Linked DNA regions of Homo sapiens: region 1 is linked to region 2. The links come from fine-mapping of genetic effects on gene expression. Tissue or cell type: whole blood. Region 2 holds a variant in brackets; the other region holds the start of a gene. All regions are shown on one strand. Distances are from middle to middle.

Region 1 (8,000 bases), 140 kb after region 2:
TAATGTTGATGCTATTAAGGCGAAGGTTCATCATAGAATTCAAGGAGGTGGGAAGACAAGGTTCTTCTTTGTTTGGAGGCCAGAGCCGTACTTTATGGTATCCACTGGGCCAACAGATCAGCCCTCTTATCCTACCCATCGCAGTCTACCTGAGCTGGGAAAGAAGGCTGATGCAGACCTAATTTCCCAGCTCCTGGGTCTGTGCCCTCCTTTGTGGCTGAGTTGACTTGGCTTGGTTTTCCCTCTGAGGTCATCACTTACTTATCCTTCCCTTATAAAATCTACTTTCTAGAGCTGACAGCCACTTGTTTGTTTCATCTTTCCTGAGAACTAAGAGAGGTTCACCCAGCTCAGTTCTTCTCAAAGACACCCCGTCTGTGCATTGTGCTTGTTTGCTCATCCATGAAAAGAGGAAGAGAGAACAGCCGTGGATGTGATGTCAGTATCAAAACTTCCTTGAGGACAGGCGGGATAAATTGGGCAAACGGCTGAGTTCTCCCGCAGCCTTTGGGAGATTGGCCCTGAGAACCCAGAATAGATGCCCATTATACATCATGCGTGTGCTATGGAAAGGTCTGTGCCAGGCAAGCCTGAGAGCCTAATTCGCTATTCCTATGGGGTTCCATGCACCCATCCTGGCTGTCAGGCCCCAATACCCATCATACTTGACCTGTACTGGGTATTTTTTCACTCAGATCCCTCACTCTACAGTGACTCTACCAGAAATCTTGAATTCCAGATGAGCCACGTCATGCCATTGTCAGCATAGGAGGCCCTTTGAAGCCCCAAAATGGGTCATTTGCACTCCCTTCTTCTGCCTGCTCCTGTTCCCATGAGTGGTTGGCATGGAAAGGGCCATCAGTAGAACTTGGCTGGCAACATTTGCAGGAGCAGGAATCAACAGAGGACCCAGGAGAAAGGGATGGAGCCCAGGGCATGAAACATAGTCCAGATTCCTGCTGGTATGTCCATGTGACTTGGTTTCAATTCCTCACCATTGTGTCACTGTGGCCTTCTAGAGAAGTCCAAACTGCTGGAAACGGGCAGTGCTTTCTGCGCTAACCCCTTCTGGTCTGACTGCTCAGCTTAGAGGAAGGAAGAAAACACTCAGAATTCTGAGAGCAAAACCCCCCAAAAAATCTACTCAAAGCACCTGAAGTTCATCCCTGGGGAGGAGAAGAAAGGAAGAGCAGATGCCCTGTATCTCCATGGGGGTACTGAGGCACAGAGCTAGGGCCGCCTAGCTGCCCAGGGTAGATCTCAGAGGGTGACTCATCTGAATTGCCGATTCCCAGCACCAGAGCAAGGCGCTCCTCAAGAACTGAGTCCGGGTTCATGTCTTCTGGGACCCCTGGCTTCCCTTTTCCCACTTGAGAACTAAAACTGGGTGCTCTGCCCACCCCGCTCACCCCGCCTTCACTTCAGTGCTCTTTCCCCTCATTTGTCATCCTTGGTGACAGAGATTGCTTTTCAGAGTGACCCGCATTCCACCGCCTTCTCCCCCTCCCTGTGAAGAGCCACATTTACTGGTAGTCCCGTGGCTAATCCTCCCCTGCAGGGGGGTGGGGGTTGTGGACAGACCCCTGTTGACGGTGATGTTGGGGACTACCCACAGAACAAAAGGTGCAGCCTCAAGGGCTTGAGCGGGGAATACTGATGCCTGGGATCAGGTAGCTGGGAAAACAGGGCAGTTATGTAACTGTGTTTACTGTGGCTCAGGTGGCTCTGAGAAGGCAGAGGCAGCCCCTGACAAAGGGCAGTGCCAGAGGTGGGGAAGCCGCGACTTGCAGGGAGGGAGGCCCCTCTTAGACAGGGGAGTCGTGCATGCAAAGGAGAGAGTGCAGTGGGATTTGGAAAGGAAAGGAATCTGTTCTGTTGTTGACAGCCAGCCGGCCAGCCGCCTTATCTAGGACAATCTTCCCAGCCTCAGCCTCTCCCTAACCGTGCCAGCTGTGGAGGCAGCAAGGGGAGCTGACGCTAGAGGGAGGCGTCGGGAAATCAGACACCTGGTTCCTGGCTCAATCTCCAAACCCTGCTACTTTTCCCCCCTTAATCTACTTTTCAAAGAGAAGGAATTCTTCTCTTTAGATAAGGGCAGAAAGGGAGGAATCAGTCAAATTTCCTTATGTTTTCCCTGCCCTGTGGCCCACTGTCTCCCATCCTCTCGGCTGTGAGGCCAGATGGGCACCACGGAACATGGTGGATTCTGACCTGAGAGAGGTGATAAACCCGGCAGAGCCCAGGCCTAAGTAGACAGGCAGAAGTCAAAGCGGCTCAGGAAGAAAGCTCAGGTCTCCCGTAGACCTACCCCGCCTCCTCCTGCAAAGCTGTTTACTCAACGCCCGATTCCCATAGAGATGAAACTGGTAGCCAGTCCCCAGCTCCTTACCCATGGCTGCCACCTCCCTTTGTGAGAAACAGGAAGTGGGGAACTTTGTCAGCTCTGCTGCACCCTCTACACTAAATATTTATCTTGGAGTCCAGGTCAGAGCCCTAGAGAATAAGAGAAGCTTGCTGCTGGTGAGGGGGTATGGCCAGGATTCCTGGAGTCGGAAGAGCTTCAGCTTCACCATCTTGGGAGAAGAAGGAAGAAAGTGAAAGCGATGTGGTCCTTCTTAGTCCCAAGGACCCTGACAGGTGGGAAAAATGCGTGTCTAAGAAAATGGGCACCTATTTTATCCCTGAGGGAGGGAAGAGGCTACCTGGCGTGGATAAGAAGGTTTCTAAGCTTCAGGTTGGGGGGCAGTGCACTGCTGCGTCCCTCAAGAAGTGTCCCAGGGTTCCCCCACTGCTCAGCTGTCCTCCACAGCAATGCCCCTGCCATCCCCATCTCTCCGCCTTCCTGGAGAGTCAGAGGTTCTTGGAAGGAGTCTTCAAGGTCATCTTGTTCAGCTCCCCGCTCAGTGCAACAGTTGCCTTTACATAGATGCCCCACAACTGGCAGACTCAGAACCCCTGGAATCATGTAAAAATTTGTCCTGGGAAGCCTTGGACCTGCTTCCCTATGACGTGTCCCCCAGTGGTCCCACTGCTGCTGGTGCAGCTGTGTGTCCACATGGCAGCCCCGCAGGCGCTAGAGGCCAGCAGGCCTATCTGAAGCTTCTCAACCCAAACATCTCCTCCAGCTTTCACATGTGATGTTTCAAGGCAACGGGGAGAGCTTCTTTACCAGAACGAGGGAGAAGATAAGACTAAAGCAGTAATGGTGGTAGGGACTGAAAATCACTTAGTCTTTTCTCTACTCTCTTTCTTTCCAAACTTTGAGTTGAGTGGTGAGCTTGGAAAACACTCCAAAACTCCTCGTGGCCTCTGGCACCAGTCTGACACCCAGTAGGAATGCAGGAGATTACGTTAGTTTTCATAATTTAGCATTGATCACTCCCAGCTCGTAGCTAAAGTTGATCAGTAACTGTTGGTTGGTTGGCTGGTTTGGGGCTTGGGGATCCCTGAGCCAACTCAAGGGCCAGAAAGGATTCCAGAGTGTTTCCACGGTCCTTCAATGTTCCTTAAGCATTCCCACTTTCTGAAGTGCCATACAGAGGCTTGGGGCAGAGACAGGGAGAGGGGATGACCAGAATGGATGGGGAGCCGGAAGGGCCGGGGCTCTGGGGACCCAGCTCAGAGCAGCGAGAACAGCGGAAAAGCAGGCAGATCAAAACAAACACAGTGTCTGGGAACACCAAGACCCTCCTAATCCCATCCCCGCCAAAGGGACCCCACCCTTATCCTCTTTAGGGGCGCGGCACGCCCGGGGGGGCCGCTCCCTTGGGCTGATTTCCTCCCTGTGCTTGCACGTGTGTGAGCGTCCCCACGTTTGCAGTGTACGCGCGCGTGTTTGTTTGCACACGACCGGCCGCGCGCCGCCGCAGGCACACCCTCTCCCCCAGCGCGGAGGGGCGGCGGGGCCTTCCCCTGGTCCGCTCCGCCACTCTGCCTGCGGGGCGCCCTCATCTCGCTCCCGGCCTGTCCGTCTCTCCCGGCTTGCCCAGTTCACCACTCCTGCCCCCTTGTCCTGGCTCCGCCCGGTTCATCGCTCCTGCCCCTGTCCTGGCTCCGCTGCGAGGCCGCTCGCTTCCCACACTCTGGAAATGTCGCTGGAAACTCTGAGTGGCCCGTGTCGGGCCGCCCGACCCCTCCCCGACGCCAGCCCTGCGGTAGGGGCCGGGATGGCAGCTGGGAAACCAGAGAGGGCTCCCCGGGGACCCTCGGCGGCCCCTCCCGGCGCCGCCTCCCCGCCGGCCAGGCCTCCTCGGCAGGGGGCCACCAGTGTCCCCGCGCGCGCCCCGACGGACGGAGAGCACTCGCACGTCCCTCCTCTCCGGCCCAGCCCCGGCCCGCAGTCCAGATCCGAGACCCAAACTCCGCCCGCCCCGCCGCGCGACTCTCACGGTCCGGCCTCCGGCGCGCGCCCCTTCGGCCTCCCTCTTCCTGCGCCGGCGCCCGGCCCGGCCCGGCCCGTCCTGACCCGGTCACGAGGGCCGCGACGGCCCGCGCTTCTCCTTGCCCTTCCTCCTCGAGCGCCCGCGCCAGGCAGCAGCCGGGCAGGGATGCTCCTGCGCTCCCGGGCGGCCTCGGGCCCAGCCACCTGCTCGCCGGGGAAGGTAGGTCCGGGCAAGGAGGGGCGGGGAGTAGGCGAGGCCGGCGGGAGGGATCCGTGCCCAACCCCAGGGAATCGCACCTAGCCCCTCCCCGGGGTCCGCGTCCCAAACTCTGGGAAGTACCTCCCACCAGCCCTCATACCAGAAAAAGCGAAATTCAAGAAAAGCTGTCCTTGTCCACGTGGCCTTGTCGCTGAGAAATACCTGGGAAAGCTCTTAGGGCCAGGCACCCAAGGTCAGGGCAGTGTTCAGAGCAGGGAGGCCAGTGCCCACCCCAGCAGAGCCGCCTCCCCTCTCCCGCTCCAGGGGCCTCTCCCCGCTCCCGGGGCTGGCTGCCTGCCTGGAGGGGAGGTCTGAATTCTGGGAGGACCCCTCCGCTCTCTGCTACATGGGGGACCAGTCCCCAGATGCTGCCCTCTTCCTTGTAAGTCCTCCCTAAGTCTCCTGACCTGGCTGCCAAGAGAAGGACTCGGACCACCCTTCCCTGGAGGTTCCTGTGGTGGGGGGCGACACAAGGGGCAGGGTTGAGAAGGGGCAGATGGGGGCACCAAGGGTAAGCAACCTCTGACTACGGGTCGTGGGGGACCTCCTGCCCTACCCATCCTCCAAGAGAGCAGTTCTCACCGAGCACGAGGTGGGCGGGGAGGTCAGGGAAGGAAGGCGCTGTCAGCTGATGGCCCAGGCGGCAGCTGCTGAGCTGCAATTTGGCCCGAAGCAGTCAGCTGGGCAGGGAGGGGTGCTGCGAGGAGCCGACCAGCTCCAGGTCTCCTGACCTTCCACCCCACCCTGCCTCAACTCCCCCCCGCAAGGGGAGGTGGAGTGTGGGGACTGGGGTGTGTCTGCCTGTTTTGCTTTGGTGGGAGTCCTAATTGGACCCAGCTGGGGAGCTGCTCCTCCTCCAGCCTCAGCCCTCCACTCCCCCCAGTCAGGCATGGGCACAGAAGAGCTGTGTCGCAGCAACTCAAATGTCAGGAGTCCCCACAAACTCAAACCAGAGACAAGGAGCTGCCCCCAGCCTTGGCTACACCCTCGCTAGCCCTGGGCAGGAGCTGGGTCCAGGGGCTGAGTCATCCCAGCCTTATTCTACCTTCATCCCCTCTGGGCCCCCAACTCTTCCACTGCTCACATGACTGCACCTCCCACCACTGTTCAGCTGACACCCCTCTGTACCCACAACCCCCATGCAGCTCATGTGGTCCCTCCGGTGGTCCCCCCAGAAGTCATATTCGCAGCTCTGCACCCAGATTCCAACACACACATACACACAGCTCCTCCCGATGCATTTGCAGCCCTCCCTGAGAGCCCCCAAGGACCCCACAGGCACAGGCAAACCTGATTCCATCCAGTCCTGGGCAGTGGCAGAGCTTGGCTGTTTCTGGTCCAGTCCAGCAGCCAAGACGCGGAGGGATGGACGCCGTAGCACCGTGCTCTGGGTCAAAAAGCCCCCTTGGACACCCCAAACTGGGAGCCCCTTTTTGTCCTCTTGCACCCCCACTCTGGGCTCCCCTCTTGCCCCTCCATTCCCTGGGTGCCTAGGGCTCCCTTCCCCTTCCCCAGCCTTGGGATGAGGCAGAAGAAGCTGGCTGTGGGCAGGCATGGTGCTGCCAGGGAAGACCCTGCACTCACAAAACAGCCTGGAGGGGCGGGAGAAAGTGGAGCCAGGGAGCGCGTGTATGTGCGTGCACATTTGCCCACATGCAGAACACCCCAGGGCACTCAGCACCAACTCTCCATGGGCATGAGCAGGTTCAGCTCTGCCCTCACCCACCGCTTCTGTCTCCACCCACCCGGAGCCCTCTGAGTCCTCATTCTGTGAAGGAGGCCAAAGAAGGGCCCGATGCTCCCTGTGAGCTCGCAAGAGTGGGTCTTGCTGCCTGGAAATGCCCCCGACGCTCCCCTTGGCCCTATTGGGCTTAAGGCCCTGCTGACTGCTTCCTGGAGGGCAGTGGGCGGGTGGCTGAGTAATCCCTTGTGCCCGCAGGCAAGAGATGCCCACACGGCCTGGGGGAGGCAGAGGGAACTGAAACAAAGTCCTGTGTTCCCAGGCCCCCTCTCTGCCGGCTGCCCCACTTCCCCTGCGCCTTCCCTCCGGGGGAGTGGGGAAGCCAGCTGCACCCGTGCAGGGAGAGCCCCACGGGCTCCTGGCCAGCCCCTCCCCTCCTCCTCACCCAAGCTCCCCCTCCCCCACTCCCACCCGGAGCTCCTGCCCTGGGCCTAACAAGTGGTCCATTGTGCCCCTGGGAGCCGGCAGGCACGGGCAGCCTGCAGGCGGGTGCCTGGCGTGGCCTGTTTCCTGGGTCCTTGAGCTAGTACCCAGCTGGTCCTGACCCCCTCCCACAGCCGGCCCCTCCTCCCCTATCCCAGGGTCGAGCCAAGAGGGCATGGGCAGCCTAGCCTAGCAGGGCTTTCCCTTCCTTCCTCCTTCCCCACAGAGGACACGCAGAGGAGCAGCTGGCTTGCCCGGAGTCCTCCCACCTTGACCCAAGCATGCAGGGCCCACCCCGCAGCCTCCGCGCTGGGCTCAGCCTGGACGACTTCATCCCTGGCCACCTCCAGTCCCACATAGGGTCTTCCTCCCGGGGGACACGGGTGAGTGAGTCAGTAGGGAGGAGGGTGTCCTGCGGGCCCGGAGTTGGTTGGGACGCTAGCAGGTCAGGTGGGGGCAGGAGGATGAAAGGGATGGAGGGAGGGCTGAAGAGAGCTCTGGGGGGCCTCGCTGGTTTCCCACAAAATCGTCAGGCGGGCCTGGGACTGTCACCGAGGGGTGTGGGCTGTGCCTAGTAGCCATCCCTCCCTCCCGCCCTGCTGGGCCCTGAGCTGCCGCTCCTGGCCCCTCCCCGCAGGTGCCCGTGATCCGGAATGGTGGCTCCAACACCCTTAATTTCCAGTTCCACGACCCCGCGCCCAGGACTGTGTGCAATGGGGGCTACACACCAAGACGAGATGCTTCCCAGCACCCGGGTAGGTCTGCTCAGGAGCCTCATGCTGGAGATGGAGGGTCAGGGCCCTGCCATCTGGCACTGCCCTGTGTCAAGCGGGAGGGGCAGCAGCTGGAGATGGGGTTCTCAAGGCCATGAGGAGGTTCCTCAGAGGCCTCTGGGCTCACTATGAGCCCCTCCCTGCGGAGCCTGCTGACTCTGCAAGAGACACCCGCTTGGGGAGAGCAGGCTGATGCATCCCTTCCCCTGCCCTCCAGCCTGGTGCCAGGGAAAGGAAGCGTGCAGGAGCCCTGGGCGCCGGAGGACCTCCCACAGGGACTGGGGATGGAAGGGTGGAGGTGATGTGGGTATCTGTTGGCTTGGGAAGGGGTGGAGACTGTCCCATTCAGGCCCAACAGGCTACCCAGCAGGAGGTTAGAGAGGCAGTTCTAGATCCCAGTCCAGAGGTCCTGGGAACTCCTGG
Region 2 (8,000 bases):
AAAGCAAACCAAGTGGTCGTGGTGTCACCCGAGCCTGCGCCGTGTGAATTGGACATGCAAAAGCAAACGCAGCAGCAGAGTGATCAGCCTCTTTCCACCTGCTTGCATGTCCTATAAAGAGAGCCCTCGAGTCCAAAGTCTGTCCTGGACAGCCTCTGTGATAGGTCTGGGCAGACCTTGGGTGTGTGACGAGGCAGCACCCTGCCCTGCCAGTCACACCACTGGCAGGAACGATTTGGGGCCACCAGTGGCCACAGGGGCAGAAGTCACAGGGTTCCAAGGCCACCTTGAATTCCTCTTTCTTCTGAACTGATTGAAGGAAATTTCATCAGATGTGAATCACTAACAAATTTTCTATTTCTCTCTCCCTCCCTACTTGTCTCTCTCTGATTTTTCTTTTTTGTTCCGTTAATATCCACCAAACTTTTCCTTGCGACCTCCCTATCTGCTCCACCTTCCTCCCGCTAAATGGTGGTTGCTGTGCAATGGGGCATGTGCCTTCTCTCCCTGCCCTGGGTGGGGCTGGCCCTCCCTCCGCACGGCAGTGTGGGGATACGGTCTCCTCTGTGTGACCGTCATCTCCCTCTGCTCCCTCCTGGGGGCCAGCGTGGTGCCCTTCATGAAGAAGACCTTTTACAAGAGGCTGCTGCTCTACTTCATAGCTCTGGCGATTGGAACCCTCTACTCCAACGCCCTCTTCCAGCTCATCCCGGAGGTATGGCAAGCCAGGGCCTTCACCCCGGAGCATGCCGGCGGGCACAGTGGGAGGACCTCCGTTTGGATAGAAGGCATAGAGAGGGCACCTGGAGGCCCTTTCCTTTTGGAAAGCGAAGCTAGAACTTAGGCGTGAACTAGGAGAGGCAGCCCAGCATAGGCTGAAGAGCTGGGTTCAAATCTCAGCTCTGCTATCAGTAGGTTCCGTAACCCCAGGCACACCACTGACCTCACACTGCCTCTGTTTCTTCAGATGTGAAATGGGGAGAGCAATAGACCGGCCTCAGGATGATGTTGTGAGGGTGGAACGAGCGAGTCTGCTGCAGCACTGAGTGCCTGGTGCGGAAAGTGCTGTCTGATGTGGGGTGAAAAGATGCAGTGTAGCGAGCTCACTCTGGCTTAGTTGTGGTGCTCAGATTAAGGCTTTGGGTGCAGAGAAGTTTAAAAAACATCATCAGCCGGGTGCAGTGGCTCACACCTATATTCCCAGCACTTTGGGAGGCTGAGGCAGGTGGATCGTTTGAAGTCAGGAGTTCAAGACCAGCCTGGCCAACATGGTGAAACCCCGTCTATACTAAAAACACAAAAATTAGCCAGACGTGGTAGCGCACGCCTGTAATCCCAGCTATTCGGGAGGCACAAGAATCACTTGAACCCAGGAGATGGAGGCTGCAGTGAGCCGAGATTGCACCACTGCACTCCAGCCTGGGTGACGGGAGTGAGACTCCGTCTCAAAACAAACAAACAAACTCCCACATCATCAGAACCCACAGTTCTCAGTAAAAAGATTGTCCATAGGGAGTTTTGGGGCAAAGGCAATGCAAGTCAAACAATGTCTGGTTTTATATACCTTGATGGTACCTTTGCCTAATAAGTTCATGAGAAAACTTGCCACAAAAGAAGGAGCTGATGGTTCATCTAATTTGGTGTAATCCCCTCAGCAGACCCATTAATTACAATAAGCACAGGACGTCTCCCTGTGGGTGGTCTCGCAGGCCTGGACAGAGCCGCAGTTGAAGCAGAGATGACTGCATGCGCCTCTTACAACACTTGGTGTTTTCTGAAATGTCAGTTGGCTCCCTCCTAGTGGATCCTTAGGTTAACTCCATGGCATCGATAGAACAAGTAACGTTTTACCACGTTGGAATCTGACCTGCACAAGAGCGCATATCCCTGAGTCGAGAACCCAGCTTTTGGGATTTCTGAAGCTCAACCCCATGATTCTGTATTCACCATCCTTTGTGGCTTTTTGCAGAGAAGTGTTCGTTGCCTATTTTCACTTCACTTTTCCCCCAAGATGATTCGACTCCCCTGGAAAGTCAACATGAAAGTGTTGTTTCCCTGGAGGGTGGTGATTCAATTTGGCCTGTTTAAAACATAAAGGCAACAAACAGCCCAGAGTTCCTTGAAGTTGGGATCAACTTTTATTTTGGACCAATTCATGAGAGGGCTGAAGTTTATTCAAGGCCCGTTTCCCATCAGAAAATGGAGGAACAACCCGGTAAATATATATACTTCCTATGTACCCACAAAAAAATTTAAGAATAAAATAGGAGCAAGTCGTTAGATACTTTTTTTTGTTTGTTTTTGAGACAGTCTCACTCTGTCACCCAGACTGGAGTGCAGTGGTGCCATCTCGGCTCACTGCAATCTCTGCCTCCTGGGTTCAAGCCATTCTCCTGCCTCACACTCCCGAGTAGCTGGGATTACAGGTGTGCCACCAGGCCCAGCTAATTTTTGTATTTTTTTTTTTAGTAGAGTTGGGGTTTCGCCATGTTGGCCAGGCTGGTCTCAAAACTCCTGGCCTCAAGTGATCCACCCACCTCGGTCCTTTAAAGTGCATGAGCCACCGTGCCCGGCCAGGTCATTAGACACATTCACAAGAACCCACCATAAATCAGGAGCTTACCCTAGGACAGAATTCTCTTGATTTCTACTCCTGTCCTCTTCCCAGTGGATTCTCCCCTCCCTCTTTGATAAGTGACAGTTTCAGAAAGGACTCAAAACAAAACCCAAAAATTGACGCTCGCAATAACACAGTCCACTTTCTTGGTTCTGTGGTCACTGGGAGGTCTGCGGTTAGGAAAACGCTGCAGTTCTTATTACTTAACTGGGAAATGGGTTTCCCGTTTTAGAAAGTATAATTACACCATCTCCCTTTGTGTTTACAGGCAGGTCAGCCAGGAACACTAGATAAGATGAAAATAAATACAAGTGTCTGCTCCTTCAATATGAAATCTATTGGCAGAGAATGCCTTCATAGCAAAGCACCAAGATAAATCAAAAGTGGAAAACCATATCGGAGGTTTTTCTTTCTGGGATTAAAATTCTACAGATGATCAGTCTTTTGCATCAGCAAATAAGCTTGAGAAGAACCTGGCAGGTTTAGTGATGTCACATCAGGGAAACACCAAGGACTAGATTTTTGCTGGAAAGAGGATGGGTAGACGGCAGAGTTACTCCATTATGCCTCTCTCCTTTCCTAGAGTCAAGGAAGTAGTTAAGAGATAAGAGGGGGATCAGTAAAGATGCTTTATTTTCTTTAAAACTCATTTTCTTTTCCTGGGTCCACAGGCATTTGGTTTCAACCCTCTGGAAGATTATTATGTCTCCAAGTCTGCAGTGGTGTTTGGGGGCTTTTATCTTTTCTTTTTCACAGAGAAGATCTTGAAGATTCTTCTTAAGCAGAAAAATGAGGTGAGGCCCAATTGTTGCTGAAGAAAGCTCTTCTAGGGAAAACACCCATCTCAAACAATGTTGATGTATTGTGGTGGTGGTGGTGATGGTCTTAGCCCAATATCACAATTTCCGTGAAACTCTAATTTCTTGAGGAGACAATCCCATTTCACCTCCTGAGGATATTTGGCCAGAAGTGAGGCCAGACCAGAAACTAGATCTGGCCAGGGTGCCTTCTACTAAGCAGTAGTTTATCCCCTTTGTTTTGTTCTAAGATTATTTCCTTAATATATTTGTATCTTTACAGGATGGGGAGAAGAGCTTGATACCATGCATTCATTCTGTATGAAGTATGAGGCTGCAGAGAAACAGGACTATTATAGTACAGTTTCAAAAAGATATCTTTAGTGGCTGGCATGCAGTTATTCCCTAAATAGCTGCTGAATTGAGTGAGATTAGCCATTGCAAAAGAGGAGCTCTAAATATTTGAGCAGTGGCTGCCTTGGTGGAATAAGCATGTACCCCGAGGAGACAGCTTTGATATCTGTCTGACACCAGGTCCTTCGCACTTGGTGCAGATTTATATATATAGATATTAGAAACGGGGTCTCGCTTCGTTGCCCAGGCTGCTCTCAAACTTCTCAGCTCAAGCAGTCCTCCCACCTCGGCCTCCCACAGTGCTGGGATTACAGGTGTGAGCCACCGTGCCCGACCATGGCTTTATATAATAGCTTTTGCTATGTTTCTGGGCACGTGACCTGCTTGTGTCATCTTCGATGGTAAGGCTGAGGTCTTCCAGTGTGTGAAGCACTTCCTTGGAGCAGGTGCTCAATCAGGTTTGTGGTTTTGGTGAATGTCATGCTGATCCCTCCCTGTCACCCTTCCAGCATCATCATGGACACAGCCATTATGCCTCTGAGTCGCTTCCCTCCAAGAAGGACCAGGAGGAGGGGGTGATGGAGAAGCTGCAGAACGGGGACCTGGACCACATGATTCCTCAGCACTGCAGCAGTGAGCTGGACGGCAAGGCGCCCATGGTGGACGAGAAGGTCATTGTGGGCTCGCTCTCTGTGCAGGTCAGTGGGCCACCAGCTGCTTGGTGGAGCCTCTAAGAGGTTGACTCAGGCTTACCTTGAGGGCACATGGTCCAGCCTTTGACGCTGTGGGCCCTGGGGGTGTGCTTTCTCCTAGGACCTGCAGGCTTCCCAGAGTGCTTGCTACTGGCTGAAAGGTGTCCGCTACTCTGATATCGGCACTCTGGCCTGGATGATCACTCTGAGCGACGGCCTCCA[T/C]AATTTCATCGATGGCCTGGCCATCGGTGCTTCCTTCACTGTGTCAGTTTTCCAAGGCATCAGCACCTCGGTGGCCATCCTCTGTGAGGAGTTCCCACATGAGCTAGGTAAGCGTGCGTCCCCCGTTCCACTGGTGCTCCCTTGGGTGGTGGTGTAGGCCCCCTTCCTGTGGCCGGTTCCTTGCTCCCATCTCCCTGTCTTCACAGTGCTTATTGTAACTGATTTAACACACTCCTAAAGCTTCATGGACCCTAATCACCTTTTTTTTGGAGACGGAGTCTCGCACTGTTGCCCAGGCCGGAGTGCAGTGATGTGATCTCGGCTCACTGCAACCTCCACCTCCTGGGTTCAAGCGATTCTCCTGCCTCAGTCTCCCAAGTAGCTGGGATTACAGACGCCTGCCACCACACTCGGCTAAATTTTTTTTTTTTTTTTGGATTTTTAGTAGAGACAGGGTTTCACTACGTTGGCCAGGCTGGTCTTGAACTCCTTACCTCGTGATCCGCCCGCCTCAGCCTCCCAAAGTGCTGGGATTACAGGCTTGAGCCACCGAACGTGGCCTAACCACCATTTCTTAACGATTAAATAGATAATTTAAAATGATGGGGTTTTTACAGGGGTGTTTGTTTCCTTTTAGCCCCATATGCAGTGGCTCAGTTCTCACCTATACAGTGGGGTTAATAAGAGCACCTCCTTTTAGAATAATAGTGAGGATTAAAGGAAAACAAAGGGTGAGAGGGACTTCCCATGTGCCAGGTGCTATTCTGAGCACTCAGTAAAGGCTCTCTTTTGTAGCCTGTTAATCTTCCAAAGGCTCAGGTGCCTGGCAGGTGCATGGCAGCTGGATGAACCAGGGGGTAGGAGGGACTTAGTTTGATCAGAGGGAGAGTGTAAAAAGCTAGTAATTACTCCAGAGGCTTTAGGGACGACGTAGGGTCAAGTTCTGGCTTTGCCATATATTGACTTGTGACTTCGGGCAAATCACTTCTCACAGTCTCGACACTTAACTTCTCGCAGTTTTGATTTTGTTTCCATGGTAGTTGTGAGGAAGGGGGTTCCTTCTGTTTCACTATGAATCCAGAGAGAAATGAGGAGGCCAGTGCCAGCTGGTCATCTATTTTTAAAATCCTGAGAAAGATTTTCAGCCTTTAGGCTGGGTATACGGCCAGTTTGGCAAATGGAGACGGGTCCTGAACAGGAAGTTCAAGGGCCTGTCTTGTCACTTCTGTCTTGAGTCTAGGGCTGTCTTGATTTTTTTCACCCACACTTTTAGCAGTCTGATGTCATCGGTGCCCTCTGTCTCCCACGACCTTGTATGACTGGCTCTCACTTTGTCGCCAGGCTGGATTCAAACTCCTGAGCTCAAACAGTCCTCCCAGCTGAGCCTCCTGAGTAGCTGGGATGACAGGTGTGCATTCACCATGCCCATCTTACTCTTCCTTCCTCGTCCCTCCCCTTTTCATTCTCGCTGCTGTAGGAGACTTTGTCATCCTGCTCAACGCTGGGATGAGCATCCAACAAGCTCTCTTCTTCAACTTCCTTTCTGCCTGCTGCTGCTACCTGGGTCTGGCCTTTGGCATCCTGGCCGGCAGCCACTTCTCTGCCAACTGGATTTTTGCGCTAGCTGGAGGAATGTTCTTGTATATTTCTCTGGCTGATATGGTAAGTGTTCCACAGTTCACTGGATGAGAGGGCGGCTAAGGGGATGGATGTTAGGTAGGTAGTTTTTTTTTATTTTTATTTTTTTGAGATGGAGTCTCACTCTGTCTCCCAGGCTGGAGTGCAGTGGCATGATCTCAGCTCACTGCAACCTCCGCGTCCCGGGTTCAAGTGATTCGCCTGCCTCAGCCTCCTGAGTAGCTGGGATTACAGACGTGTGCCACCACGCCTGGCTAATTTTTGTATTTTTAGTAGAGATGGGGTTTCCCCATATTGGCCAGGCTAGTCTCGAACTCCCGGCCTCAGGTGATCCACCCGCCTCGGCATCCCAAAGTGCTGAGATTACAGGCATGAACCACCGCACATGGCTGGTAGTTTGTTTTTAATAACATCTTCCTTAGCTTTCTTTCACATACCACAGAGTTCGTCTGTTTAAGGTGTACCTACCATTCAGCGGTTTTTAAGGGGGCATTAGATTTTAAAGGAGGAAAAGTTTATGTTTTTGTTAGCATATGTCATTAAAGAAAATGATTATAATTTATCTATGGTCTTTATTAATTATTATGGAATGGCTGTATATAGATAAGAGACAGAAGAAAGGAAAGAAAATTACGCATAATCATACATCATACTACCCCTAAAACAATAATAGCAATACTTTGGTTTGTTTCTTTTTTTATCTCAATGCATTGGGTGTGTCTTTTTCTTTAATTTTTTTTTTTTAGACAGAACCTCACTCACCTAGCCTGGAGTGCAGTGTGTGATCATAGGTCACTGCAACCTTGAACTCCGGAGCTTAAGTGATCCTCCTCCCTCAGTCTCCCAAGCAGCTAGGACTACAGGCTCCAGCCACCATGCCCAGCTAATTTTTTGAATTTTTATAGAATGGGGTCTCTATGCTGCCTAGGCTGGTCTTGAACTTGTGGCCTCAAGGGATCCTCCCATCTCAGCCTCTCAAAGTGCTGGGATTATAGGTGTGAGCCACTGCATCTAGCTTGTTAATAATATCTTGATAACAAAAAGACCTCTTAAAGTGTTTAAAGTCCATAATAAGGCCAGGCATGGTGGCAGGCACCTGTGGAGCTACTCAGGAGGCTGAAGTGGGACAATTGCTCGAGCCCAGGAGTTTGAGGCTGCAGTGAGCTATGTTCGCACCACTGCACTCGAGCCTGGGCAAGAGCGAGTGGAAAAAAGGAAAAAAAAAAGTCTATAATATAAAGTTTATTTTTTATCAGAGTACATTTATTTTTAGCCAGCCTCTAAACTCATCCAGAGCCACATACACGTTGAGTACTTTGTTTTACCTAGACAGTTGTAAAGACATGGTACCTGCTATTGTTAATTTTCTTTTTTTGTTTTGTTTTGTTTTGGAGATGGAGTCTCGCTCTGTTGCCCAGGCGGGAGTGCAGTGGTGTGATCTCCATTCACTGCAGCCTTGCCTTCCGGGTTCAAGCAATTCTCCTGCCTCAGCCTCCCAAGTAGCTGGGACTACAGGCCTGCGCCACCACGCCCAGCTAATTTTTATGTTTTTAGTAGAGACAGGGTTTCACCATGTTGGTCAGGCTGGTCTCGAACTCCTGACCTCTAGTGAGCCGCTGCACCTGGCCCTGATAATTTTCTTTGTCAACCAACCTGATCTATATCTCCATCACTGAATTG

Evidence for each region. PIP is the estimated chance that this variant, and not a neighbour inherited with it, causes the effect.
Region 1: it holds the start of SORBS3, and the variant in region 2 is fine-mapped to the expression of SORBS3 in whole blood (TOPMed, PIP above 0.99).

Annotation. Positions count from the first base shown.
Region 1 is chr8:22,547,422-22,555,421 of GRCh38, forward strand. SORBS3 (sorbin and SH3 domain containing 3) reads left to right here and starts at 4,506. Exons shown (of 21, transcript NM_005775.5): 1 at 4,506-4,601; 2 at 7,031-7,187; 3 at 7,442-7,559. The coding sequence starts at 7,086. It overlaps LOC124901905 (a long non-coding RNA gene), which reads right to left and starts at 6,704. Exons shown (of 2, transcript XR_007060851.1): 1 at 4,741-6,704. RefSeq lists enhancers at 1,645-2,145, 3,471-4,435, 4,659-5,536, 5,344-5,393, 5,537-6,412 and 1 more and silencers at 3,824-3,953, 4,264-4,443, 4,594-4,673.
Region 2 is chr8:22,411,492-22,419,491 of GRCh38, forward strand. SLC39A14 (solute carrier family 39 member 14) reads left to right here. Exons shown (of 9, transcript NM_001128431.4): 4 at 546-715; 5 at 3,289-3,411; 6 at 4,278-4,466; 7 at 4,582-4,789; 8 at 6,160-6,344. Among named protein-coding and RNA genes, the nearest start is that of PPP3CC, 26 kb to the right of the region's middle. The variant T/C (reference allele first, on the strand shown) is at 4,683.